Homo sapiens: one gene and its partners. The protein of the gene in region 1 purifies or fractionates together with the protein of each later gene. This does not show direct contact. Each region holds a gene or a part of one and is shown on either strand. Other genes may lie near its edges. The genes, in order: LAP3, ZCCHC17, CLIC4, MDH1, LACTB2, MTPN and TKT.

What was found.
Region 2: the proteins of LAP3 (region 1) and ZCCHC17 purify together in Homo sapiens (affinity purification with mass spectrometry; one large-scale study listed by BioGRID and IntAct). This does not show direct contact.
Region 3: the proteins of LAP3 (region 1) and CLIC4 fractionate together in Homo sapiens (co-fractionation; one large-scale study listed by BioGRID). This does not show direct contact.
Region 4: the proteins of LAP3 (region 1) and MDH1 fractionate together in Homo sapiens (co-fractionation; one large-scale study listed by BioGRID). This does not show direct contact.
Region 5: the proteins of LAP3 (region 1) and LACTB2 fractionate together in Homo sapiens (co-fractionation; one large-scale study listed by BioGRID). This does not show direct contact.
Region 6: the proteins of LAP3 (region 1) and MTPN fractionate together in Homo sapiens (co-fractionation; one large-scale study listed by BioGRID). This does not show direct contact.
Region 7: the proteins of LAP3 (region 1) and TKT fractionate together in Homo sapiens (co-fractionation; one large-scale study listed by BioGRID). This does not show direct contact.

Annotation. Positions count from the first base shown.
Region 1 is NC_000004.12:17,575,930-17,579,997, forward strand, and holds the start of LAP3 (cytosol aminopeptidase), read left to right. Parts: upstream 1-1,268; 5' UTR 1,269-1,536; coding exon 1,537-1,638; intron 1,639-3,894; coding exon 3,895-4,010; intron 4,011-4,068. UniProt on the Homo sapiens protein: Cytosolic metallopeptidase that catalyzes the removal of unsubstituted N-terminal hydrophobic amino acids from various peptides.
Region 2 is NC_000001.11:31,338,532-31,342,031, forward strand, and holds part of ZCCHC17 (zinc finger CCHC domain-containing protein 17), read left to right. Parts: intron 1-425; coding exon 426-517; intron 518-3,500.
Region 3 is NC_000001.11:24,839,447-24,842,133, forward strand, and holds part of CLIC4 (chloride intracellular channel protein 4), read left to right. Parts: intron 1-413; coding exon 414-595; intron 596-1,326; coding exon 1,327-1,491; 3' UTR 1,492-2,687. UniProt on the Homo sapiens protein: In the soluble state, catalyzes glutaredoxin-like thiol disulfide exchange reactions with reduced glutathione as electron donor. Can insert into membranes and form voltage-dependent multi-ion conductive channels.
Region 4 is NC_000002.12:63,595,463-63,598,962, forward strand, and holds part of MDH1 (malate dehydrogenase, cytoplasmic), read left to right. Parts: coding exon 1-57; intron 58-1,936; coding exon 1,937-2,112; intron 2,113-3,500. UniProt on the Homo sapiens protein: Catalyzes the reduction of aromatic alpha-keto acids in the presence of NADH. Plays essential roles in the malate-aspartate shuttle and the tricarboxylic acid cycle, important in mitochondrial NADH supply for oxidative phosphorylation.
Region 5 is NC_000008.11:70,666,386-70,670,455, forward strand, and holds the start of LACTB2 (endoribonuclease LACTB2), read right to left. Parts: upstream 2,801-4,070; 5' UTR 2,736-2,800; coding exon 2,614-2,735; intron 1-2,613.
Region 6 is NC_000007.14:135,970,860-135,974,359, reverse strand, and holds part of MTPN (myotrophin), read left to right. Parts: intron 1-3,500. UniProt on the Homo sapiens protein: Promotes dimerization of NF-kappa-B subunits and regulates NF-kappa-B transcription factor activity. Plays a role in the regulation of the growth of actin filaments.
Region 7 is NC_000003.12:53,228,523-53,232,022, reverse strand, and holds part of TKT (transketolase), read left to right. Parts: intron 1-472; coding exon 473-666; intron 667-1,401; coding exon 1,402-1,566; intron 1,567-2,586; coding exon 2,587-2,743; intron 2,744-2,885; coding exon 2,886-3,016; intron 3,017-3,500. UniProt on the Homo sapiens protein: Catalyzes the transfer of a two-carbon ketol group from a ketose donor to an aldose acceptor, via a covalent intermediate with the cofactor thiamine pyrophosphate.

The DNA of each region.
Region 1 (4,068 bases):
CAGACCTTGAATTCCAGCTACCAGTTTGAAGATCCCCAGAGAGGAATGGGGTCAGCTTAAGAATACAGGTTCTTCAACGCCCTGTCCCATGACTTCACCCTGCACTCTTCAATCAACGATCTCCACACTATAGCCCTCTCCAAAACCCTTAAAAACCTTGACCCCAAATTCCTCAGGGAGATGGATTTGAGGTTTCCTCCCATCTCCTCCTTTGGCGACTCCACGATTACACCTCTTTCTCTGCTGCAACCCTGGTGTCTGGGCGTATTGACTTGCTATGTGCACGAGTCAACGAACCTAATAGTGTTACATCATTTTCAAAAACAGTATTTACACCGTTGCACCTGTGGAACAGATGAAAGGACACGAATAAAAATAACTCAGGCCAGGTGCGGTGGCTCACGCCTGTAATCCCAGCACTTAGCGAGGCCGAGGCAAGTGGATCACGAGGTCAGGACTTCGAGACCAGCCTGGACAACATGGTGAAACCTCGTCTCTACTAAAAATACAAAGAGTTGCCGGGCACGGTGGCTCACGCCTGTAAGTAATCCCAGCACTTTGGCAGGCTGAGGCGGGTGTATCACCAGAGGTCAGGAGTTCAAAGCCAGCCTGGCTAACATGGCCAAACACTGTCTCTACTAAAAATACAAAGATTAGCCAGGTGTGGTGGTGGGCGCCTGTAGTCCCAACTACTCGGGAGGCTGAGGCAGGAGAATCTGTTGAACCCGAAAGGCGGAGGTTGCAGTGAGCCGAGATTGCGCCACTGCACTCCAGCCAGGGCTACAAGAGCGAGACTCCGCCTCAAAAAAAAAATCCAAAAAAACAACAAAAAAACACAAAGATTAGCTGGGCGTGGTGGCGGGCGCCCCTAATCCCAGCTACTCGGGAGGACGAGGCAGGAGAATCGTTTCAACTAAGCAGCGGGAGGTTGCAGTGAGCCGAGATCGCTCCATTGCACTCCAACCTGGGTGACAGAGCGAGACTCCGACTCAAAAAAACCAAACAAACAAACGAAAACTCAGTGGGAGTGTCTTCACTATGCAGTCGTCTATTCAGCAACCTTGACAACAAGCTCTGGCACTCAGTTTCTATTTCCCGGGAGTTGCCCAGCGCTCCGCCCACGCCCGCTTGCAGAACTCGCCCCGCCTCCGCCCCACCCATCGTGTGACGTCACCATATCGGTCCCGCCCCTCTACTTCGCGTTGCTCCCGGGACTGTCAACCGCGTCCGGAAGCCCCGCCTTTTCGCCCCCGCCCGCATGCGCGGGCGCACACGAATGCGGGCGCACACGAATGCGGGCGCACACGAATGCGGGCGCACCCTTGAGTCCCCTCCACAACCGCGGTTTGATCCCAGCGGTCCAGTCGGCCGGTGCTGCCCATCCGTCCCGCCCCCTAGACGCACGTCCGCTCGCCCGGCGCCCGAGCCAGTCCGCGCGCACGCCGTCTGCGCCCCGAAAGCCCCGCCCCAAGGCGCGCCCGCCCACCGCTCTCCACGTGCTCGCTGGAGGGCGGTGCGAGGGGCCGAGCCGACAAGATGTTCTTGCTGCCTCTTCCGGCTGCGGGGCGAGTAGTCGTCCGACGTCTGGCCGTGAGACGTTTCGGGAGCCGGAGTCTCTCCACCGCAGACATGACGAAGGTGAGAGGCGGCGGCTCGCTCATGGTCCGCCGCTGGGGCCCTGCCCGTGGGCTACTGGGGCTGCGGGGCTGGTCGAAGCCGCGGTGTCCTGGGCGCCCAAGCCAAGTTGCAAAAATCAGTTTAAAAGAAAAATTCTCTCCTTGCGGGGATCGGCCTAGGCCGCTGAGGACCCCAGCGGTCGTATTGAGGGCGCGATTCCCCTGCTCGGGGCTAGGGGGTGATGGTTGTAGCCGCCCTTTACCCGGCTCCACTCGGCCGCGCACTTGCTCCAGTCGTCACCCGCGGTCCTGGCAGTAACCCGGGGAAAGACGCGGCGGTGGGGCTCCCATCCGAGCTTGGAGGAAGCCCGAGTTTGCCAAGGTGAAAGGGTTTCTGAGGTCCCAGAGTCACAGGGCTCCTTCCCCCGCGGAAGTGAAAGGTCAGGGAGTTAAGTAGCTTGGAAGGGTTTCTAGAGGAAAAGCATGCCTCTCTAGAGAAAAGGGCTTTGGGGAGAGACCCACGTTTCCCAGAATTAAGAGCATCTTCCAGAAGAAAAGTGAACTCCAAAAAATTACGAAGGTCGCTCTTCAGATGTGAAGGATCTGCAAAGGGAATGGCTCTCGGAACCAGCACAAGCTTGGGAGTCATGCCTAAGCACCAGAAAGAGATGACTGTCCCTGCAGAAGAACGTTCTAGGGGGAGCTTGAGCTCCAGTCTCCTGCAGGTATCTCAGTGGTGGAGGGACCAGTCGCCTGACCAGTGCTATCTCCAGTACTGTGCCACAGCCTACCCAGATAACAGTTGCTCAGTTGGCTCCATTGATTCCCGGGGAGTGAACAATCTTAGGGAAGTTAGAACCTGGCAGAGTTACCAATGCCAAGGAAGGCCGTTTTCTTTGGTGGAAAAGACCGAGAGGGCACTATTCTAAGTGTCTGTGTGGTTTTGTGGAAAGATCAACTGCTGGGCGGGAAGACATCTGGATTCTCACTCAGTCCTACCACACCACACAGGAGCTCCTGTCTCAAACTAGGTTTCAGTTTCCTTATCGGTCAAGGGGGATAAGGCTACTTGTTCTTTCCACCTCACAGAGTTGCCATGAGGCAGACAAAACATTTTTAAAGTCATAAATTGCCGTGCAAAAGTAAATACTAAGTATTACTAGGTTTGCTTCCTCATTTCTGGTATTTGAGACCTGAGACTTGTGAAGGAGATGAAGGGAGTGAGCCGCTAAGTGCTTAGCAGAGTGCTTCTACCCTCCCTAGGAAGTTGGTACTTCTCTTACAGCCTCTGTGTTGACCACAGTCCTTACGTGGCAACAGTCCTTACGATGGGAGGCACAGCCATTGGCTTGACTGGAACGGCATCCTAGAATATCTGGGATTTGCACTTGAGGATTGTAGGGGAGGAAAATCTTCCCTCTATCCTCCTAGGTTCTGTGGCTGGGCCTAAGAAAACTGACATAAGATGTATTAACAAGAGAAAAGGATACAGATTTTATTTACTATTTTTACGTGTACACAGGAGTCTGCAAGAGGAAAATGAAGACCTGAAGAAGCGTTGGGCCCAAAAGCTTGTATACCTTTTTAAACAAAGAACAATGCATTGTGGGGGTGTGACAAGACAAAGGGGCTTGGGTTAGTAAATTGTGGAATAATGACTAGGAAATCATATGGGGGTAACTAACAGAAGATAAGGGTGAGTTCAGTAGGTTTATTTGTACAGGTCCATTTTGGTGTTGACTTCCAGTTTCTGGTGATAAGAATGTTCTCCTTTTCCTGGTACAGGGAGATCACCTTTCTCATGGGAATTTGTGTGACCTGCTTTTAGGGAGAAAGGGAGGTCAGAGAGTACCTCTGCACCTGCTGTTTCTCAAGCGCCTTTGGCTGAAAATAACTAATGTGCCAAAGCGGTATATTTTGGAGTGGCATGTTCTGAATCCTTTCAGGGTCTATCTTGGTGACAAATAGATTTTTCTTAAACAAAACATCTTTCTGCTTTATTTGAAAGTGAAGCCGTCTCCTAGGAGTGAGCACAGAAACCCAGGGCAATGTCCAGGACGGGCAGTGATGGGTCTTGCTTTGGCAGGAATCTGAAACACTTGGGCAGGTGCACATGTAGCTGACCCCAGCACCTGCTTCTTTTTTTGCTTTCTTCTGTCCATGGGGAGGACACGGTTTGGGTGGAATTATTTGTTCCTTCTGGAATTTGGGGACTCCTGAGCCTCTCTAAGGGATCTACTCTAATTCTATTATATTTACGTTTTTTGCTTATTCCCAGGGCCTTGTTTTAGGAATCTATTCCAAAGAAAAAGAAGATGATGTGCCACAGTTCACAAGTGCAGGAGAGAATTTTGATAAATTGTTAGCTGGAAAGCTGAGAGAGACTTTGAACATGTAAGTGTTGCTTGTGGGCTCTAGTTCTTAAAGTGCCCCCAAATCGAAACAGTATTTT
Region 2 (3,500 bases), on another chromosome or scaffold:
CCAATGTGACAAATGTCTTCATGCTTAAAGAAGCTCTAGACCAAGTCCAGAAGGAGATCTAGTCTCTTGAAGTATTCAAAAACCTATTCTGGACTTAGGGATATCTCAACAAATCACTATGCTGAACTTACCTGGAAGAAAAACTTTTATTTTCTGCCTGGTTACTTCCACAAGCCATGGATTTTTTGAGCTACCATTTTTGTCTTTCCCTCAGAGGGACAAGAATGAGATTAAGACTGTTTCCTAAAATTCTTCTGCCACAGGGTCTACCTGTTATGCTTATTTGTATCTGCAATGTTCCTAGCACAGTACCTGGTCCATTAAAGAAGCTCAATGTTATGATGAAAACGTTGACTCTTAATTTTAGACTGGCCATCTAAATGATGTATTTAAAGTTTTTGGTGACTTTTTTTGGTCTCTTTCAGATGAAAAATGATAGAATAAAAGTATCCCTCTCCATGAAGGTTGTCAATCAAGGGACTGGGAAAGACCTTGATCCCAACAATGTTATCATTGAGTAAGTAAAAGGTTTGGAAAGGTGAAAATTCTTCTGCCTCCCAAATCATAAAATGGTTTAGTAAATCAGACTGAACTGGTAACTCTACCATTTATGGACTTTGTGATATTGATAAGTTACGTAACCTTTGCAATCTTTGGTTTTTAGAAATGTAAAATGAAGTTAGACCAGGCGTGGTGGCTCACGCCTGTAATCCCAACACTTTGGGAAGCCGAGGTGGGCGGATCACCTAAGAGGTCAGGAGTTTGAGACCAGCCTGGCCAACATGGCGAAACCCCGTCTCTACTAAAAATACAAAACTAGAAATTTGCTGGATGTGGTAGTGCGTGCCTCTAGTCCCAGCTACTCGGGAGACTGAGTCATGCACTAGAGTCTCTTGAACCCAGGAGGCAGAGGTTGCAGTGAGCTGAGATCATGCCACTGCACTCCAGCCTGGATGACAGAGTGAGACTCGGTCTCAAAAAATAAAATAAAGTAATAAAATAAAAATAGTTAACACCTTGCTGCATAGAGTTCTAAGATGAAACGTTAACGTACCAAGCTCCTGGCATTGGAGTGCTCCATCAATGGTTTTGTTTCCTTTCCCTTAATCTCTTTCTGTTTCTGCCCTTTAACGAGTTAGCTAATAAGCATTCATGAAGAACTATTCTTTACCTCTCTCCCAGTGATTTCTGCAGGTGGGGTTACGTGGGTCTCTTCCACATAGAGACCACGTGGAAGGGTAGAGTAATCCAGGAACAACTCCAGCGGGGTTTAGACTCCCACATCTTGGGATACACTGTGCTCTGAAAACAACATCTTACTTTCGTTGGCTCTTCTGACCTTTCATTTAGGAATGGGAAATTATCTATGTAGGACAATGTCTGGCAATACAAGGAATGTTCTGTCTGTCTCAAGTCTTTCTTGGATTTCTTTTTTTTTTTTTTTTTTTTTTTTGAGATGGGGTCGCCCAGGTTGGAGTGCAGTGCCATAATCACGGCTTACTGCAGTCTTGACCTCCCAAGCCCAAGCTATCCTCCCACCTCAGCCTACCGAGTAGCTGGGACTACAGGCATGCGCCACCACACCTAATTTTTATTTTGTAGAGACAGGGTCTCCCTATGTTGCCCAGGTTGTTCTTGGACACCTAGGCTCAAGCGATCCTCCCACCTTGGTCTCCTAAGTGCTGGGATTACAATTGTTAGCCACCATGCCCAGGCTTCTTTCTTAAATTTCTCATCGGAGGTTCTTGGATCCCTAAAGTCTCTTAAAGGGGGATCTTGGAGGGTTTTTTTTTTTTTTTTTTTTGAGACAAGTTTCACTCTTGTTGCCCAGGCCGGAGTGCAATGGCACAATCTCGGCTCACCGCAACCTCCGCCTCCCAGGTTCAAGTGATTCTCCTGCCTCAGCCTCCACAGTAGCTGGGATTACAGGCATGTGCCACCATGCCCGGCTAATTTTGTATTTTTAGTAGAGATGGGGTTTCTCTATGTTGGTCGGGCTGGTCTTGAACTCCCGACCTCAGGTGATCTGCCCGTCTCGGCCTCCCAAAGTGCTGGGATTACAGGCGCGAGCCACCGCGCCCGGCCCTTGGAGGGTTTATTAACTGTTTTTAGTGTTTTAGAAAGCCATCCAAAATTCTATGTGTGTCCTCAGGTTAACCATGCTGTTATTTTGTTGCTTTTGATGATAAAATATCACATTGTTTGTCTTATGTTAATTAGGTACGCTCAATGACAATTATGTCATTGATGAATTTAAAAGACAAGAAAAATGATAGAATGTTATTTGAGTGGGATCTTATTGGTGAAAAGTTTGGAAAGCCTTATGTTTATAGTTCTGAGCAAAATCACTTTGAATTTGAAGGAATTTTATCTGGAAGTAAGGGAAATGTTATTGAATACATACTGCAGTGCCAGGCATTTTATGTACATTCTTGGGTACATAACAACCTGCAAAGTGGATGTTATCTCCATTTTACCTTATATTCCTACTTTATAGCTTGGTGCCTGGTGATAAGTAACTTACCTGTGGTTACATAGAAAATTATCAGGGACTCAAAACTCAGTCTCTCTGACCTTAAAGCTAATGCCCTTTTCACCACAAAATGCTTCTCACTCTTGCATGTGACTTACAGAACTTTTCATATTTCTGTGGTTTAGTCTCTAAATATTAACATGTTTGTAAGGCTGATTATTGACAAAATACTGTCAGTAATAGTAGGAATCTTTTATAACTCAGAGTGCAGAAGTGTTTAAATCTGGCTGTGGTTCAAGTTAGTGTTGGGAAAAGGAAAAAGAAAAAATTCTGATGATTGCATTGTAATAAATAGCTTCTGCTCCAAAAAATCCAATGCTATATGGACTCATTAAAAAATAGTGAAATTTCCCAAAGCCACCCTTACAGTGATAAAATATAAAACATGTAAGATAAAAGAGCTAACCCTGTTTCTCAGAAAATGGGTAGGGAAGGGAAAGGGCTCCCTGGTTTTGGGCTGTCTCTGTGTAGAACTATTTTTAGTAATAATCAAGTGGCTGAAACAGTAACTTTTGTTGTAAATTATGTCTATAGCTGCATCCAGGAAGGAAGCATGGCATAATGGAATGATTAGAGGATTTAGAGCTAGACTTGAATCAGAAAGAGTACTGGTTCTGCTCCAAACTAATATATGACTTTGAGCAGATTAATTAGTCTATCTGAATCTTAGCTTCTTTACTATAAAAGGAGACAGTAACATATATCTAAGGAATGCTTGAGTGATTTAAGTAAAATCTTATTTGTAAGGAGCCAGCTTCATGTCTAGTCTATGGTAGACATACATGTAGCTACTTGTAGTTATTGTTTTAAATGCCGCTTTGTTTTATCCTCTAATATCTGAGATTATAGCACCTTTTCTTTTTTCCTCATACTATGGTGTACGGAACCACACCTTTGCTTTTGAAAGAGTGTGTGTGTAAGACCCACAAAAACAGAGACCATGACTTGTCTGCCATTGTGCCTGATG
Region 3 (2,687 bases), on another chromosome or scaffold:
CCGCCACCACGCCCGGCTAATTTTTTGTATTTTTAGTAGAGACGAGGTTTCACCGTGTTAGCCAGGATGGTCTCGATCTCCTGACCTCGTGATCTGCCTGCCTCGGCCTCCCAAAGTGCTGGGATTACAGGCGTGAGCCACCGCGCCCGGCCATTTGTTAGCAAGTTTTTACAAATACCACTGCCTGACATTATTATGCTTATTTATACTTTTACCTGAACAAACTTGTTTCATCCCCTGCCCCACCTAATTGAGCTCTAGGAGAGCAGGAGCCTTGTCTGTTTTGTTCTACAGTACCTTGTTTCAGAGTAAACATTTTTAAACAGTTATTGACTCAAAGAGTCTGCTTCTCCTTGGGGACTTGAGTGGTTTTCCTTCTTACAGTATTCTCATCTCTTTTTTTCCCCCCCAAGCACTGGAGAGGGGTCTCCTGAAAACCCTGCAGAAACTGGATGAATATCTGAATTCTCCTCTCCCTGATGAAATTGATGAAAATAGTATGGAGGACATAAAGTTTTCTACACGTAAATTTCTGGATGGCAATGAAATGACATTAGCTGATTGCAACCTGCTGCCCAAACTGCATATTGTCAAGGTAGGTCTGTAGGGGTTGATGTCGCATTGCCATTACCTTGTATTGTATTTACTAAAGTGGCATTTCCTTTGTGCTCAAAACATTTCTGATTTTATATGACTAGTTGTTTAACTCAATGCTGTTTAGGCAATAGTTGAAGCACCCTAGAGTTAGTTAAATGGAAAATTATGTCTTAAAATTGAGGAATATAAGAAAGATGAATATTTTTTTTTCTGTGACTGCATACAAATTCAAAGATATAATGCGTGACTTTGAATTGGAGTTTGCCACACTGACTTATGTTATCAAATTCTGTTCTGTGATCACACCTTGCTTTCTCTATTGAAGGCAAAAAGTATTGAGCATTTATTATATGAGACACTGGGCTGGGCACATTGTTAAATAGAATAATAATAAGCGCTAGTTGTAAATAAAGACCTAAGATAACAAAAACAGATCTAAAATAGCATATGTGTGTTGTGAAGTATTTTCCAGTGATTATACTTGGCTGTCTTTCTGGATGTCCAAGGCAGTTATTTGCAGTCACTGTCACACTTCTAAATCCCTGGTGTAGCTTGCAGTCTTGGTCATTATTTAAAACTCTGGTTAGAATGATGGTGATGGACTTTTTTTCATATAGAAGCAGTTCTCAAAGATTTAGAGCATTAATTATTTGCTCCAAAATCAGAGATATGTCTAGTTTACAAGACGTGGAAATAAGTCTGTTAACTTTTGATCTCTTTGTATTTCAGGTGGTGGCCAAAAAATATCGCAACTTTGATATTCCAAAAGAAATGACTGGCATCTGGAGATACCTAACTAATGCATACAGTAGGGACGAGTTCACCAATACCTGTCCCAGTGATAAGGAGGTTGAAATAGCATATAGTGATGTAGCCAAAAGACTCACCAAGTAAAATCGCGTTTGTAAAAGAGATGTCTTCATGTCTTCCCCTAAGAATACGCTTTTCCTAACAGGCTACTCCTTCCTGTAGAGCAGAAATTGTATTTTGCACGAACATGCAGTTATTGAAGATTAGGATCAAGGATAGACAAGGTATAGTAGTTATCTTAAAATATACACTCCTAAGCAGTATTATTTTAAAATCCTTTACCCTGGCTACCTCCCCTACCCGGGTTCCCCTCTCTTTAATTTGGAGACACTCCACCACAAACTTTTCACTTTAGAGGTAGCTTGCCATCTCTCAGGAGCCCTCACCATTGTGTCCATTCACTGTGTATAGATGGCAGAACTTTTGAGGTGCAATGTTTAATTGTTAAAAATAGTAGCCACGACTTTATCAGGCAGCCCCAAACTGGTGCATAATGCATGGTACAAGAAATATTTATGTATTTTTTGGAATTTTGTAATATTTAGTAAGAGTATATGAAAGGATTGCTACTGTATCAGAAATATTGTTTCAATTTAGTCTATCCTGGATATGTACTAACGAATATTACCACCAGAGAAGAGAGCTTTCTACAAAAGTCACTACAGATTTTGCTATATTGCTTTGTAGATAGATTTTTACTTTTGCCTAAAAGCATTTATCCTTCATACCAATTGTAACATCTGACACCATGTAGAAGCTAAAAGTTTAGAGGGAGTGAGGGTTTTCTCAAGACCTTCCTCAAGCATTTTATCTTTAGAAGAGAAACTGATGGGCACCTGATACTCTGTCTAAATACGTTTGTTATATGTGTTTTGCCCTGTGCCATTCATTTGGAACTTTATTGCATTCTTTATTTTAAAAAGCTTGTTTTTACGTAATCATAGAGCTTGCTATTTGTACATCTGTTGAGCAACACTACATAACTGATTTTTAGTTGACTTAGCTATAGCAGTACAATGATTAGTAATGTAAAAATTAACACAGAAATTAACCTAAGGAATGAAGGGTGGGTTTGTCAAAATATCAAGTAAATTTTTGTTTCTAAAGTACATTTAATGTAGATGACCTAAAGAATGCGTTATCCATCCTATATAAAAGAAAGATAAAACACAGGTCACCAATTTTCTCATTTCACCCCATTTACCTTGTATAGAGGATTGTTCATTCCTTTGGGACTAAGTTATAGTTATGGTGAGTGTGTATTTACTGTAGTTTTGCCT
Region 4 (3,500 bases), on another chromosome or scaffold:
GTGTCCTGGACGGTGTCCTAATGGAACTGCAAGACTGTGCCCTTCCCCTCCTGAAAGGTGGGTTGGGGAGTAGAGAAGGGATTTTATGGTATTTGATTTCTTACAAAATACAGGTTTTAGGTTTTTGTTAAAGGCTCTCAATTAGAAATTATTTCATAAGAGGATTTTTTTATTTTGAACTACCACTGTTTATTAACTACTTATGTATACCAAGGATAAATAAGGGTAAGAAATGAGCAACAATCAATGTCAGGTAAAGGACTATCCTTTTTTCCCCAATGTGTGTGTGTATATAATTTATTATACCAGTTAAGTGTAATATTGCACAAGGGTTATACACCTGAAATTGTCTACACACACACACATTATAGACAACGTAGGAATTGTCTACATTGTGTTGTTATGGAGTCTGCTTAACTGGTAATAGTAGCATCCTGTAATGGAAAACTTTCTCAGTTTTGAAGGATGTCCTTCATAGCTATACATTGCTCTGGAAGTTGGTTGGTTCCTCTTACACGGTCCCCATCCCATCTACCAATCATCAGGTTGAGACATAGTGTAAATTGTCCTTACCATATGCTCTATAGTTTGAAAAAACCCAGAAGAGCTCAGCTAAGGGCCTTTGCAAATCATTGAACTATAACACAGATATAATAAGGAAGCCTTAAATTTGATCGAAAAGTTTATTAAAATATTCTAAATTAATTTAAATATTTTTCTTCAGCTATTTCTTCATCATAGTCTTTCTTTTGGTAAGGATTAATTAATGATACTCTCCTAGAAGTTTGCACAAAGCAAAATAATACATACCTTCCAAGAAAAACTTTCCTTAAAATTCTTCATCTGTTGAATAAACATTTGCTAGAAGGGATACTCTGCCATCTAAGTCTTTTGGTTGCAAAGTTCTGTGGAAGAATACATGACTGCCCACACTATTCTGTTGGTTCCCTTTTCTCACCCACAGCTCTTTCCAAATCAGCTTTGCTGCTTTTTCCCATTTGTATTCCTTTCTCTGCTGAGTTCCCTGTGCTTTTTCTCTAAAGGGCCCAGATTGCTGTTGGTTTGTCCTCTGCCAGATATGAATATGACAGGGAAGGGAAAGTTCAGCAAATAAGGACATGTGACTGGGAAAGAGGAAGATAATTTTTTTTTCTCCAACTGGTGTTCCTGTCTATGCCCATTTTCAGACTTATGGCAGCCTTGACTATGATGCAACTAGCCAATTTTCCAGTGAAAATGCTGAATGTTGGTCATAGCTTTTTTAATACAATCAACAAAGAAGTGCGATGACTTATGTTCTTTAGTCAAAAAGCAAGTGATGTTTGCTTATTGTACTAGCACTGGAGCATAGTGGTTGAACTCTGGACCAACCTAGGCTGGAATTACAGCTCCATTATCTTTTGATGGTGGCGAGTTAATCTCTTTAAACCTCAGTGTCTCCATCTATAAAATCAGAAGATTAAATTTGATAGTAATATAAATCTCTTAGCATTATCCTGGCACAAAACTCCTCAATAAACATTTATTATTTTTAAATTTGTGATTGGTGTCTTAGACCTTAAAGTAATTGTAATTTAAAGGTTAGGTGAATTAGTTGCTCTTTTGTGTTGTGTGGTAATTAGTGTGAATAACAAGTGTCACTTCAAAAGTCATCATTATACCTTGCATCATATATGATTATAAAAGATAAAAGCTATGGAGTTTTGACATTTAAGTAATTATTGAAACAGGAAAAGCAAAATAAATCTATTGACATTTCTAATGTTATGATTGTTAAATTAATATATTATCTTTCTCAGGCTCCTGAAATGTATATCAGTGTGATATGTAAACACTTGCAACAAGTGAAAGAATTAATGGGTAGATTCAATATGAAAAAGAAAACTTCAAACTTTGATGTTTAAGTAGCTCTGCGTATTTATTGCCATGTCCACAGATGTCATCGCAACAGATAAAGAAGACGTTGCCTTCAAAGACCTGGATGTGGCCATTCTTGTGGGCTCCATGCCAAGAAGGGAAGGCATGGAGAGAAAAGATTTACTGAAAGCAAATGTGAAAATCTTCAAATCCCAGGGTGCAGCCTTAGATAAATACGCCAAGAAGTCAGTTAAGGTGACCAATGCTGTATTTTATGGGATTTTTCATTATTAGCATTTGAAACTTATGCTTTTAGCATTTAAGCAAAACCAAAATTATTTGCCCTTTTTTCTAGTTCTGTACAATCATCAGTAAATACGGCTCTAGAGTTTTGCTTGATAAGCTCTCCCTTTCTGGGTTTTTTCTTACAGTATAGAAATCTATATTCAGAGTGCTCAAAAATATTTTTCCTATTAGTATAACGTGAAAATTTAGTATTAGTTCTTAAACATATAGAGAAGGCACAGGATCTTCTGGTGCATTTTTGCTGCGTGGGAATATTTATTTAGACATTTAAATTTGTGTGTGATTGTGAAAGGAGATAGCTAGCTGTAAGGTAAGTTTATTCTCAGGAATAGAAGATAGTGGTTTCTGAATGCTCAGATTTTCTTAATGCAGAGGAATTTTAATATGCTTGTCTCTTGAAGAATTGAGTCAGTATGACTTATAGTTCTCTCTTTGTGTTCAAACTATTTACTTTAGATTCTAATATGTCTTAATATTACAGTAAGCCTTTTTTATTTTTTATTAATTTTTTTAATTTTTTTGAGACGGAGTCTTGCTCTGTCACCCAGGCTGGAGTGCAGTGGTGCAATCTTGGCTCACTGCAACCTCTGCCTCCCGGGTTCAAGCGATTCTCCTGTCTCAGCCTCGTGAGTAGATGGGACTACCGTTGCACGCCACCACACCCAGCTAATTTTTGTATTTTTAGTAGAGACGGGATTTCACCATGTTGGCCAGGCTGGTCTCGAACTCCTGACCTCAGGTGATCCACCTGTCTTGGCCTCCCAAAGTGCTGGGATTACAGGTGTGAGCCACCACGCCCAGCCAAACCTTCTTTTATTAGTGAACTATCAATTAACTAGAACTTAATTGTCACCCAGCAAATAGGCTTGCCGGTTAAAGGTTTAACTGATTTCCATATACTTTCCTATCTTTCAAAAAAAGGTGAAAGAAAATTTTTTAAGATTTTTTAAGTTGCCCATTATAATGTTCTATCAATAACATTTCATAGATATCTGCATTTTTTGCTTTCTGTGCACTTCATTTTAAATAGTTAACTTATTTTCTGTCATCACAGAAAATAGTATAAATGAGTTTAATAGAAATCCACAGGTGCCAGTAAAAGATTAGAAGATTGTTCAGACTGCTAAATTGCAGGCTATTTGGAGGTAAAGTACTCCTTGCACAGTAATTCCACTTCTTCAAAGCGTCCTTGTTCGTGAGAAATATTTGCCAGCACTGCACTACTTAGAGACAATGAAGTATCTTGTCTACAGCTTGTCAAAAGAGGTACCAAAAAAAAAAAAAAAAAAGATATATGGGAGTCAGTCTCTGTAATATGGTTGTAACTTTTCTATAAA
Region 5 (4,070 bases), on another chromosome or scaffold:
AAAGGATGAATGAGATTAGCTGGGTAAAGAAGGGAGGAATGAGTGGAAGAAAGAGGAAAGCATGCGTGAAGGCCCTGAGACAGGGAATCACAAACCTCATCTGAGACACTAGAAGGCCAGCATGGCTGGAGTGGGAGAGGTTTGAGAGGAGCCTGATAAGACTGATGGAGGCCAGAATACACAAGGCCTTCCAGTTTTAATTCCTAAAATACCACTCAGGCTACAAAGGGAAGATTGGATTGAAGAGAGACAGAGGTAGTCGTACAGAAGCCAATTAGGAGGCTATTACAGTAGCCTAAGCAAGAGTTGTGCTGGCTTGGACTGAGTGACAGCAGGGGACATGAACAGATCTTCATAATGGCTTGGATATGCAGTAGGAAGCAAATAAATGTCAGGAAGGGTATTTAGGCATTTCCTTTGATGGCTTTGTTTATCAAGATATGAACAACTGAAGGAGGACCTGGCAGTTTTCTGGAAAGGTTATGAGTTCAGTATGGAAAACACTGAGTTCCAGGCAGCAGTGAGTCATGCAAATAGATTTAAAAGTTGGCTACTTGAGTCTGAAGATCAAGTTTGGAATTTGAACTTGAGCTATATATTTGGTAGTTAATAATAAACAGATAATAAAGGCAAAGCCAAATAAGTAGATGAGATCACCTAGGTAGAGAATACAGTAGAAGAACATGAGAGATGAGGATTATATACTGAATAACTAAAATAATTAAAGATTTGATAAAGAAGATGACTCTATCAAGGTGAAAGAGAAAGAGCAGCTCAAGAGGTAATAGGAAACCTGAAGAATGTGGTGTTGGCAAATTAAGGAGGGAGTCGTCAATGGTGTCAAAGCACTGAAGTTCAAGGAAGATGAGAACAGAAAAATACCATTGGGGTTAGTGATACAAAAGCCGCTTGTGATCTTAGAACTGTTTTGTGAAGCGGAACAGGTGGATACCAATCTCAGAACATCTGACAAGGGGCCAATTAATATTAACTTCTAGCCACCTTTTACTTTACACCTTTTACTTTATACAGTAGCATTATCTACACTTATTTCTAGCTCAACTATACGGACTCTCTAGTTCAACTATATGGAGAAATAATTTACATAGTGCAAGTAATTCCACTGGCCATTCCACTCCATTAATTTATGTGAGCAACAGTGTTAAGTAATTTAAGACGAGAGACTATAAATCTGCTTTTCCCTCAGTTAGTCTTTAAGTCTCTCTTAGCACTAGCACTTTGCTATGTTGAGTGTGATTATAGTGTTTAAAGATACAGTATGTATTTTTCATACAATATAGCCCCTCAACACAAGCCAATTTCTTCACCTGGTTTTCAAACAGAATCAGCCATCTGTTTCAACGCTGGAAAAAAGGCAGGTTGTGCTGAACTTACTGAGACAATACACTGATCTCCAACATGGTGTTCTTCTAAGAGACTTTCCAGGGTAATTCTGATAATATGCATCTTTTGTCTGAGGTATTGACTAGTTCAAGATGACACACTGTAGAGAGACCGCCTATGGATTTACTTGGTTGAGGGACTTCCAGCCAAGACAGACTGTACCCTAGAGATCTGGCATTTTTCCTGCTTAATTCTCTATCCTCCTAGATTCTGGTGGCAGCCTAAACCTTTGGTAACTACCTGACCCTGCCTTATTTACTCTGAACTTAATCTTTTACCTGCCCACTTTGCAGGTCTGCTGCTTCTAAAATTCTTATTTACTGGAAAAACGCCAAACAGTAGACACTTCCAAGGAAAACTCAATTAACTGTACTTACTAAATCGTTTTTAGTAATCAATTATATTTTAAAAATAATTTATGTCTTGACTGCACAATTAAATTCTATGCTCAAGAGAAACTACATTATCTGGGTTCATCCAGTAAAGACTACAAAAGTTGCTAAATGCCTAAGACTTACTATGCAGTAAACCAAATCTCCCATTCCTGCATAATTCCACTAAAACAGAATGCAGCTAAACAAGAGCAAAAGTATCTTCTTAGAAATACAGGTGTGTTACTGTGTCTGCAAATTAAACTCAAACAAGGTCACACACAATTGTAACAAAAAACTTCCCCAAATTACTTATGTCAGCTCCTCTTATGAGCCCACAGGCTGCAGAGAACCAATTTGGAAGCCAGGAGAATCCTGCCCTCTGCTGCTGAGTTGAGGAAATCGCCTCAACATAATTAATCGCTTTTGAGAAGGGAAGTTACACTCTGGGCAAAACACCAGTGAAAGTCAAGTGAGCAAAGTAAACGCTTTCTTGGACTCTTGACATCCGAATTTTCTCAACAGTTTAAACACGCACACCCTGGCATTCAAACATCAAGAACAGTAAATCGGGTTTCAAAACAGAAGTTTTTTTTTTTTTTTTTTTTTTTTTTTCCATTTCTCCCTAAATTAGAGAGCTATCACCTGGGGTGGTCGTATTTTAGCTAGCTTCGAGATCCGAGTGTCTGCGTGCAGTCCCGACGGGGCTGCTAGGCGCGGGGCTGCCCAGCTAGGGACAGGACGCGGCGCTCTCCACTGCCCGCGCAGCCGCGATCAGTCAAAGCCCGGGCTCCGGGGCCGGCTGCGAACGTTGGGGAGGTTGGAGAGGGACGTTTACCTGGGGCCGGTCCCCACTAGGTAGGTGTTGGTGCCTTGGAGGGTCATGGGACCCGGGTTACAGCCCAACACACGCACGACTCGATTGGACAGCCGCTCGACGCGCTGCAGTACAGCAGCCATTCCCGCCTCAGCCGCCCGCCGGCGTGTCGCCTATCTGGATACTCCAGCGCGGAAGAAGCCAACAGGCCGGGGATAGCGAGTAGCGTCCACGTGATGCCTCGCAACCCGGGAGGGAGGGGATTGGCCAGCGGCTGGTCCAGGTGTCATGTGACACCGCGGACGAGCCGGGGCGGGGATCCGGCAGCTAGGCCGGGGGGTGGGGGGGGCGGTGCGGAACTAGAGGTCACGTGACGCCGCGCGGGCTGCGCGGGCAGTGGTGGGAAGGCTGGCGCGAGGCGTGAGGTGGCGTGAGGCGAAGCTGGAATCTGCCTCTGTCACGGGGGCTGGTGCCTCACGGGTTTGTGTCCTAGACAGGCGAGTGGATCCAAGTGGGCGAGAGACATTTTAATCTGGAAGAGTCTTGTGATTTGGGAGACAGGTTTGGTAACCGTTCGTTATTCAGTAATAAATGTCAGGAAGGATTGCCAGATTTTTAGGCAGTGGCTCTGTGTGTGTGTGTGTGTGTGTGTGTGTGTGTGTAGTAGTAGTAGTAGTAGCCTGTTCATTTTTTTTTTTTTTTTTTTTGAGACGAAGTCTCGGTCTGTCGCCCAGGCTGGAGTGCAGTGGCGCGATCTCGGCTCACTGCAAGCCCCGCCTCCCGGGTTCACGCCATCCTCCTGCCTCGGCCTCCCGAGTAGCTGGGACTATAGGCGTCCGCCACCACGCCCGGCTAATTTTTTGTATTTTTAGTAGAGACCGGGTTTCATTGTGTTAGCCAGGAAGGTCTTGATCTCCTGACCTCGTGATCCGCCCGCCTCGGCCTCCCAAAGTGCTGGGATTACAGGCGTGAGCTACCACGCCGGGCCAGCCTGTTCATCTTTTATAATAAATAGTGGTAAGACATATTTACTTAGTACTTCCTACTATGCCTAAGTGCTTTCAACAAACATCCGACTTAACGCCCTTAATCCTCAGAACATTATTAAGAGGTGGACACTATTTTTGTTACAAATGAAAAACGGGGATTGGGCAGCTGCCCAGATGACAGAGTCTGCGTGTGCGGCCTTGCTCCTACCTGCCTCGCACTAACACTTGTCCCCCTCAGTGAGATTCAAGGAGCATGCCTCTGCCTGCCAGTGTTACCTGCCTGCCCAGAGAGCTAGGCTGGTCTTGTGGAGCCGTTTTGTGCCCAAGATGGAAGGGACTCATTTTCTCTGTAACAAGTCGGTTTCTTATCAGCCAAGTATTAACTATCCAGTGTTAACTACAGCTTCCCATAAAAAAAGTTGAGTTATAAATTACTTAAAAGAAAATACACAGATCCTGTAGACAGTTCCATCGAGTTATGACAATTGT
Region 6 (3,500 bases), on another chromosome or scaffold:
GTTGTACAGGCTGGTCTCAAACTCCTAGCCTCAAGCGATCTTCTGGCCTCGGCCTCCCAAAGCACTGGGATTACAGGTGTGAAAGCACTGGTTCACAGGTGTGAACCCGTTTTTCCTTTATAAATTAGTATTTTTAAAAGTCAGTAATTACACTTTTCTACCTGCCTCTGACTTCTCTATTAAAGTTCGAAGTGTGAGTATCCCTAAATCATTGGTTTTAGGTGAGTTCTTGAACTTAGAAAAGTCAGTTCACAGTCCCCAAACCACTGAAAATTGTATTTTGAAATGGAAAAGACAGTATTGAGAGAAAAATTTAGATTATTTAGAGAAAAATTTAGATTATTACATTAAATGTTTCATGTATAACTTTAAGACAATATCTGAAGCAATTTTAAAGTCTTTCAACACTACATTTGGCTTCTTGACTGACTTAAGGACCACATTTAGTTAATTCATTCATTTTTACTAGGCATCTTTCAGGTCTTAAACTCTTTAGTAGTCCTGGGATGATAGTACAGAAGTTCGACACAGTTTTCAGGAAACGTAAGCATCTATATTTAGCAGACCTGCGTGAAAAAAAATTCATACTTTTATAGTAGTATGCAAATTATAAATAACATCTCATTTTCATAAAATTCAGTTGTCCGGCTGGAAAACAAGTGAAAGCCAGAAAATAAGGTATTCATGAGCAGCTATAAGAGATATTCATAGCCCCATTTTTGATCTGGATGTTTCTTTTGGGTGACATTATTTTTGACTTTGTCTTACATTTCTGCCTTTATGTTCTCCTGTTGGAGTTAATTCTAGCCTCACCTGAATTTCAGACTGCATAAGCTCTGTTCAGACAAATTCCAAATTGAGCTGTTTTCCTCTCAAAAACTGTTTTTATTCCTATTGTGTCTCCATTTTCACTAATGGTATCATGACCCAACCATTTGTCCAAACTGGAAACTGGGAAATTTTCCTAGATTTCTGAGGGTTACCAAGACTACCTTCTTAGTCTCCCTCATCCATTCCTCACTCTCCTTTCTTCTTACTACTTTAGATCAGTTGCTGCTTCTTTCCAGCCTGGACTATATTTTCTTTCTTGACTATAAGAAAATAGTCAAGAAAGAATATATAGTCCAGGCTGGAAAGAAGCAGCAAAAATTGACCCCTTCCTGGTCAGTTTACACAGTTTAGGTGGAGGGATCTCTCAATAACATGAATATAAGCATGTAATCTTTTTCAGCCAGTCTCCTGCACTGCCCTTAAAATATTAATACTTTTGTGATTTCTCACTGCTTATTTTAAAAGGGCCAGCTCCTCATTGGTATGGTGTACTAGGCCACTATTATCTGGGCTTGCTTTTCTACACTTGCCTCTCTCTAAGCACTCTGCTCCAGACCCTGCCATCCTGTTTCTTCCTTGTAGATCTTTACATGTGTTCTTTCATCCTCCCTGACCAAGTCTGCTCACCTCAATCCCTAACCCCCAACCTGTTAAACTCCTATTTACCCTCCTAGGGTAAGTATCACCTCTAACAGAAAAACACCATACCGATGAGGAGTTGGCCCTTTTAAAATAAGCAATGAGAAATCACAAAAGTATTAATATTTTAAGGGCAGTGAGGGAGACTGGCTGAAAAAGATTGACTTCACATAGAGTGCTGCTTCTTTTACTGTTTTGCTCATCAGATTGCTGTGATTTTGTTTACATGTGTCTTCATTAGGCTCTGAACTCCTGGAGGGTAGATAATATATTCTTTTTCATCTTTCTGTCTCCAACATAGCGCCAAGGAATTTTACACATTAAAATCATGTTTCTGGTAAGAAATTCATTTTATTCTTAACTTAGCAATAATTTCAGCATACTTCATTAATTACAGAATAATAATTACCATTGACTGGATGACTTACATTGTCAGGTACTGGAAAGCACTCTGCAAGATGTTTTACCTAAGTTTTTATTTGCTTCTTACCACAGTGTTTCAGTATAAGTAATAATCTTATTTTAAGGATGAAGAACCTGAGGCTTAGAGAACTGAAGTAACTTGACAAGGTCACAAACTAAGTAGCATAACTGGATTTTAAACCCAGAACTGTCTGAATCTACATGGGGTGTGTGTGTGTGTGTGTGTGTGTGTGTGCGCGCGCGTGCGCGTGTGCGCGTGTGTATTTATAACCATATCAGTTTGCTTTAAAAGTGGTTTTTTTTTTTGCTAACAACACTTTAGAATTAAGAAAACGAGAAAGAGGCTTGTAAGAAGCCGGTACAACTAATTAGCTCTGACTGTGAATGAAGACAAAAATGGCAACCGTATTTTAAAAATTGTAAATGTAACAATTCAGAAATAATTAGTATAGAGACAAACATCTCTGTAAACTTAAACTCTCATCAGAGACTGTCATTACTCAAGACGTGTCCATAAGAGTGACTGATAGCCTGCAGAATGTTTTGTATTTATGGTCACATATAATCTAACCTTATAATTTATGTTCCTAATTGTGATCCTACACAGTCCAGAAAAAGTTAAATTTTGTTTGTTTGCCTTAGGAAGAAACAAAAATAACTAAATTATTGAGATTTCTATTCATAATTATTTAAATAAAACAAGTAACATTTTGAAAAAAGTATGTTTATTAAATTTTATGTATTTGAGGATTGTGATGCAGTATACAGGTATTATTTCATTTACTTATCAACAGTAAGCCATGAGCATTATTAATAATGTTAACCCCATTTTAGAGATTTTAGAGGCAGAGATTAAATAACTTGCTCAAGATCATAAAGTTCTTAAGTGGTGAAGCTGAGATGTGAACTCACTTCCTTGGGTTCTGAAGGAGTTTCAAAAGCCCCATGCTGTTAACTACTTCAGCATACCCTTGACCTTCATTTCTCAATAAGGCCAGAAACTAGGGGGGTACTATATTATTGAGTAAATAGTAAAAATAATCATAGCAGGATGGTAATTATCCATTGAGACTACTAAAAGGTGAGCTTTCTGGTGGATTTTGAGGATCCAACATGCTTACAGGTGAGTGCTTGTGAGTTGCATTGATAAATAGCCCCTTTTAATCTTCAGCAGGTCTGATACATGTACTCTCTTGTTTACATGTACTTCTATTTCACTTGCTGTGAAATAGAAGCCTGGTCTCTAACTTCCCTTTCTCTGTGGTTTCCTTTCCCTCCAGCCTCCATTCTAATTACATCTGCCGTTGACACTCTAATAGGTTTGAAAAGCAACAATTGTGCACCATGTGAAAGGATAGAATCTCTTGAACCTGAGAAAGATATCAACTCTAATCTTTAGAAATTCCAAGACTCATTGAGATCACTTTTCACTTTCCTAATAAAATAGCCAATTTAAAAGAGGTCCTGATTCAATCTACTTTGCATTTATTGGTTTTAGGCAGCTTCCCTTTTTTTTCTTCTTTAAATTATTAGTTTCTTTCTTATAAAAATGTATCACTGTGTGTTGCCCTTTCTACAGAAGGGCTGGTGACCTATTCAGAAAGCAT
Region 7 (3,500 bases), on another chromosome or scaffold:
CATTGGGTGACCCTGGAAGCCCTGTTCTGGGCCTTGGGTTCCCCTTCTGATGGCCAGGGTCCCTTCCAACCCAGTCGACAAACTGAGTATTTCTGCAGCAGACACCTCTACCTGTGTGTGACCCTGCAGGCGGGGTTGTGGGGAGGAAGAGAATGGACACATTGGTGAAGGGATGGGGCAGTGGGCCCAGAAACACACACCTGCCCACGTCTGGCCCCTCCTTTCCCACTCAGCTGTGAGCTCCCAAAGGACCAGGCAGTAGACAGTGAGTGGTGGGCACGTAGGAGTCCATCCTATTCACTGCGACCCTCCTTTCCTGGCCCCCGTGCCTGGCTGGGCTCTGCCTGTCTGGGATGATGCCATTCCTCCCTTGCCCTCGGCAGGTAGAGGGCCAGTCTCCTGGAGCAGCCTCCTGGCCCTCTGGGAGCTTCTGTCTTACCCATTCCTCTGTCCTCCCGTGTTGGGTCTGCAGGGGTAGAAGATAAGGAGTCTTGGCATGGGAAGCCCCTCCCCAAAAACATGGCTGAGCAGATCATCCAGGAGATCTACAGCCAGATCCAGAGCAAAAAGAAGATCCTGGCAACCCCTCCACAGGAGGACGCACCCTCAGTGGACATTGCCAACATCCGCATGCCCAGCCTGCCCAGCTACAAAGTTGGGGACAAGGTACAAAGTGGGGCCTGTTTCTCTGAACCCATAGTTCTCAGGTTTCCCAAGTCTGTGGCCCAGATACACCCTCTGGAGGGCTGGGAAAGGGAGGAGAGCGATTCATTTAGGGCGAGGAGTGATCCCTGAGGTGTTGTTCCTGTCACTTCCCTCAGAATGACAGACATCTCTGGAGTTGACCTGCAGAGGCTCAGACCGGGCAAGGGAATTGCCCACTTAGCAAGCTTAGCAAGCTACTGACAGAACTGAGATCAAAGCCAAGGACTCACTCCCAAGTTCTTGCATCGCTGGTCCACGAGGGACCCTTGGCCTGAGCTCAGGACCCCCACCTGACCTGGGAAAGGCTAGGCAGAGCTGTCCCACTCCAGGTTTCTGTCCCAAGGGAACCCATCCATGCAGCCTGTGCCTGGCCTTGACTCCCAAGCCTTCTGTGTTCCCATGCAAAGTGGAATAGGTTCATGGACCTGGTGCAGCAGGCGGGAAGTTGGGGCTGGTGGGTGTCTTCTGTAGCTTATACCTTTCACAGCCAGAAGGGGCCGGGGCTCCAGGGGCTCCCAAGACATTGACCGTAGTCGTTGGCAACCTTTCAGCAGTTAAAAGCCTCTGCAGGACCTTGTGCTCCAGGGCTTCCATTTTTGGCCCCGTTTTAATCCTTCTCTGAAAGCAGGGCTCCAGGCTGCAGGTGTGCACTCACCCTCAGAGGGGTCCAGAGCCTTCCCACTCTCTTCCTCACAGATAGCCACCCGCAAGGCCTACGGGCAGGCACTGGCCAAGCTGGGCCATGCCAGTGACCGCATCATCGCCCTGGATGGGGACACCAAAAATTCCACCTTCTCGGAGATCTTCAAAAAGGAGCACCCGGACCGCTTCATCGAGTGCTACATTGCTGAGCAGAACATGGTAGGTGCTGGGGCCGGCAGGGACAGGTCCACCCAAGGCTGAGGGCTGTGGTCTGAGGGGTGCGGGGCAGCCATGTTGGCAGAGCCAGGTGCCTGCTGTAGGCCAGCCCAGGGAGACTATAAGAAAAGCCAGGACCCAGCGTTAACCCCTGACCTTGAACAGCCACAGTTTGGGAGGTTCTGCCCAGGTGCAAATGTCCTGGACAGGTGTGCACATGGGGGAGCCGAATGGGACTGCAGGTGCTCTCAGGAGGAGCTGCGTACAGGCCAGGCCTGGTGGTGAATGGGGTCTCTTCCAGGTGGAGGACAGGCCTGGCCAGTAGGTGGGGCCGTGATGGGTTTAGCAGCCCGAGTCTGTAGAGCACCTGTAATGCACACGGCTCTGGGCCCTGCCACCCTGAGGGATGCAGAGATGAGGGAACTCTGGGCCCCTGACATGTACCCATTTGGGGAAGCAGACCCTTGTCAGGAACTGAGGTTGTGAAGTAAGGAACAATGTTTTGTCCATGTTTTCAAAATATCCCCTCCTGGTGGTCCAGGAGCCCAGCCTGGCTTGCAGGCCCCTAGGGACAGGGAGCTTCCTCTCTCTGGAGGGCACTCAGATCTCCAGAGTTCTTCCAACTGGACCTGAAATTCTCTCTGTGGTTTCCAGAGACTGCTCTGCAGGGCGTGGGGCTGGGGAGGTCCCAGGTACTAGGGAAAGAGGCCTTGTGTTGGCTGGCAGATTTTGGAGCCTTGAAGGGCAGCTGGTTTGGAACTGATGACTGTACTCAGTGCTGCTTCTGGATGAGTGATTTGGGGCCTGGAGCCTCAGCAGGCATGAGGCTGCTGCCCTCGGACCCCAGGGAGGGGTTGGGAGGACCGGTCTCTGCAGAAGAAGGTGGTGGGGGACATATTCAGAAGCCCAGAAAGGATGGACAATCTATATACAAATTGTGGCTTTCTCCACAAAAGGGGTCCTAGGCTCCCCGACCACCCTCTGCCTGCCCCTTTGGGCTGACCCTGTCCCACCTGCCCCCAGGTGAGCATCGCGGTGGGCTGTGCCACCCGCAACAGGACGGTGCCCTTCTGCAGCACTTTTGCAGCCTTCTTCACGCGGGCCTTTGACCAGATTCGCATGGCCGCCATCTCCGAGAGCAACATCAACCTCTGCGGCTCCCACTGCGGCGTTTCCATCGGTGAGTTTAGCCAGGGTGTTTACACCTGGAGCTCCCTTGACTTTTGCACCAGGAGGTATGGGAGGGGGATGGGCCAGGATTCCAGCCCATGGATGGGGGGGTAGGGGTCTTATTTCTGCATATCCTTTCCCCCACACCCCAGGGGAAGACGGGCCCTCCCAGATGGCCCTAGAAGATCTGGCTATGTTTCGGTCAGTCCCCACATCAACTGTCTTTTACCCAAGTGATGGCGTTGCTACAGAGAAGGCAGTGGAACTAGCCGCCAATACAAAGGTAGGTTGCATGGCTGTTCTTTCTCCTGCTGGCAGCCATCACTTCCCAAGGGAAACAGAAGAGGAGGCCAGAGCTGGTCACTTGCTGCCCCAGGGGGTGTTTCCTGACCTTGCCCCTGGTGTTCGTGTAGCTTGTGGAAGTTAGACAAGAAAAAACGAAATACACACCCCACTTACTGCCACGTGGCAGACATTGTCAACTGATTGCCAGTCTGTCTCTGCTGAGAATCCTGGCAGCCCTGGCCGGTCCAGCGGTTGACACCTCTCCACCCTCCTGAGTTGGGTTCTCCAAGACAGGCAAGGATGAGCTGAGCCCTGTGGTCCAGGCCCGGAGCTGCATGCCACAGACCCAGTGCGCGTGGTTCCTGCCCCTCTGCCTGGTGCAGTCTGTGGGAGTAGCCCACCTGCAGCCAGTCTACCTGGTGGAAAGTTGCCTTCGGTCTGAGGCTGCAAGGTGGTGGGCAGTTCTCAGAGTGTTCAAGTGG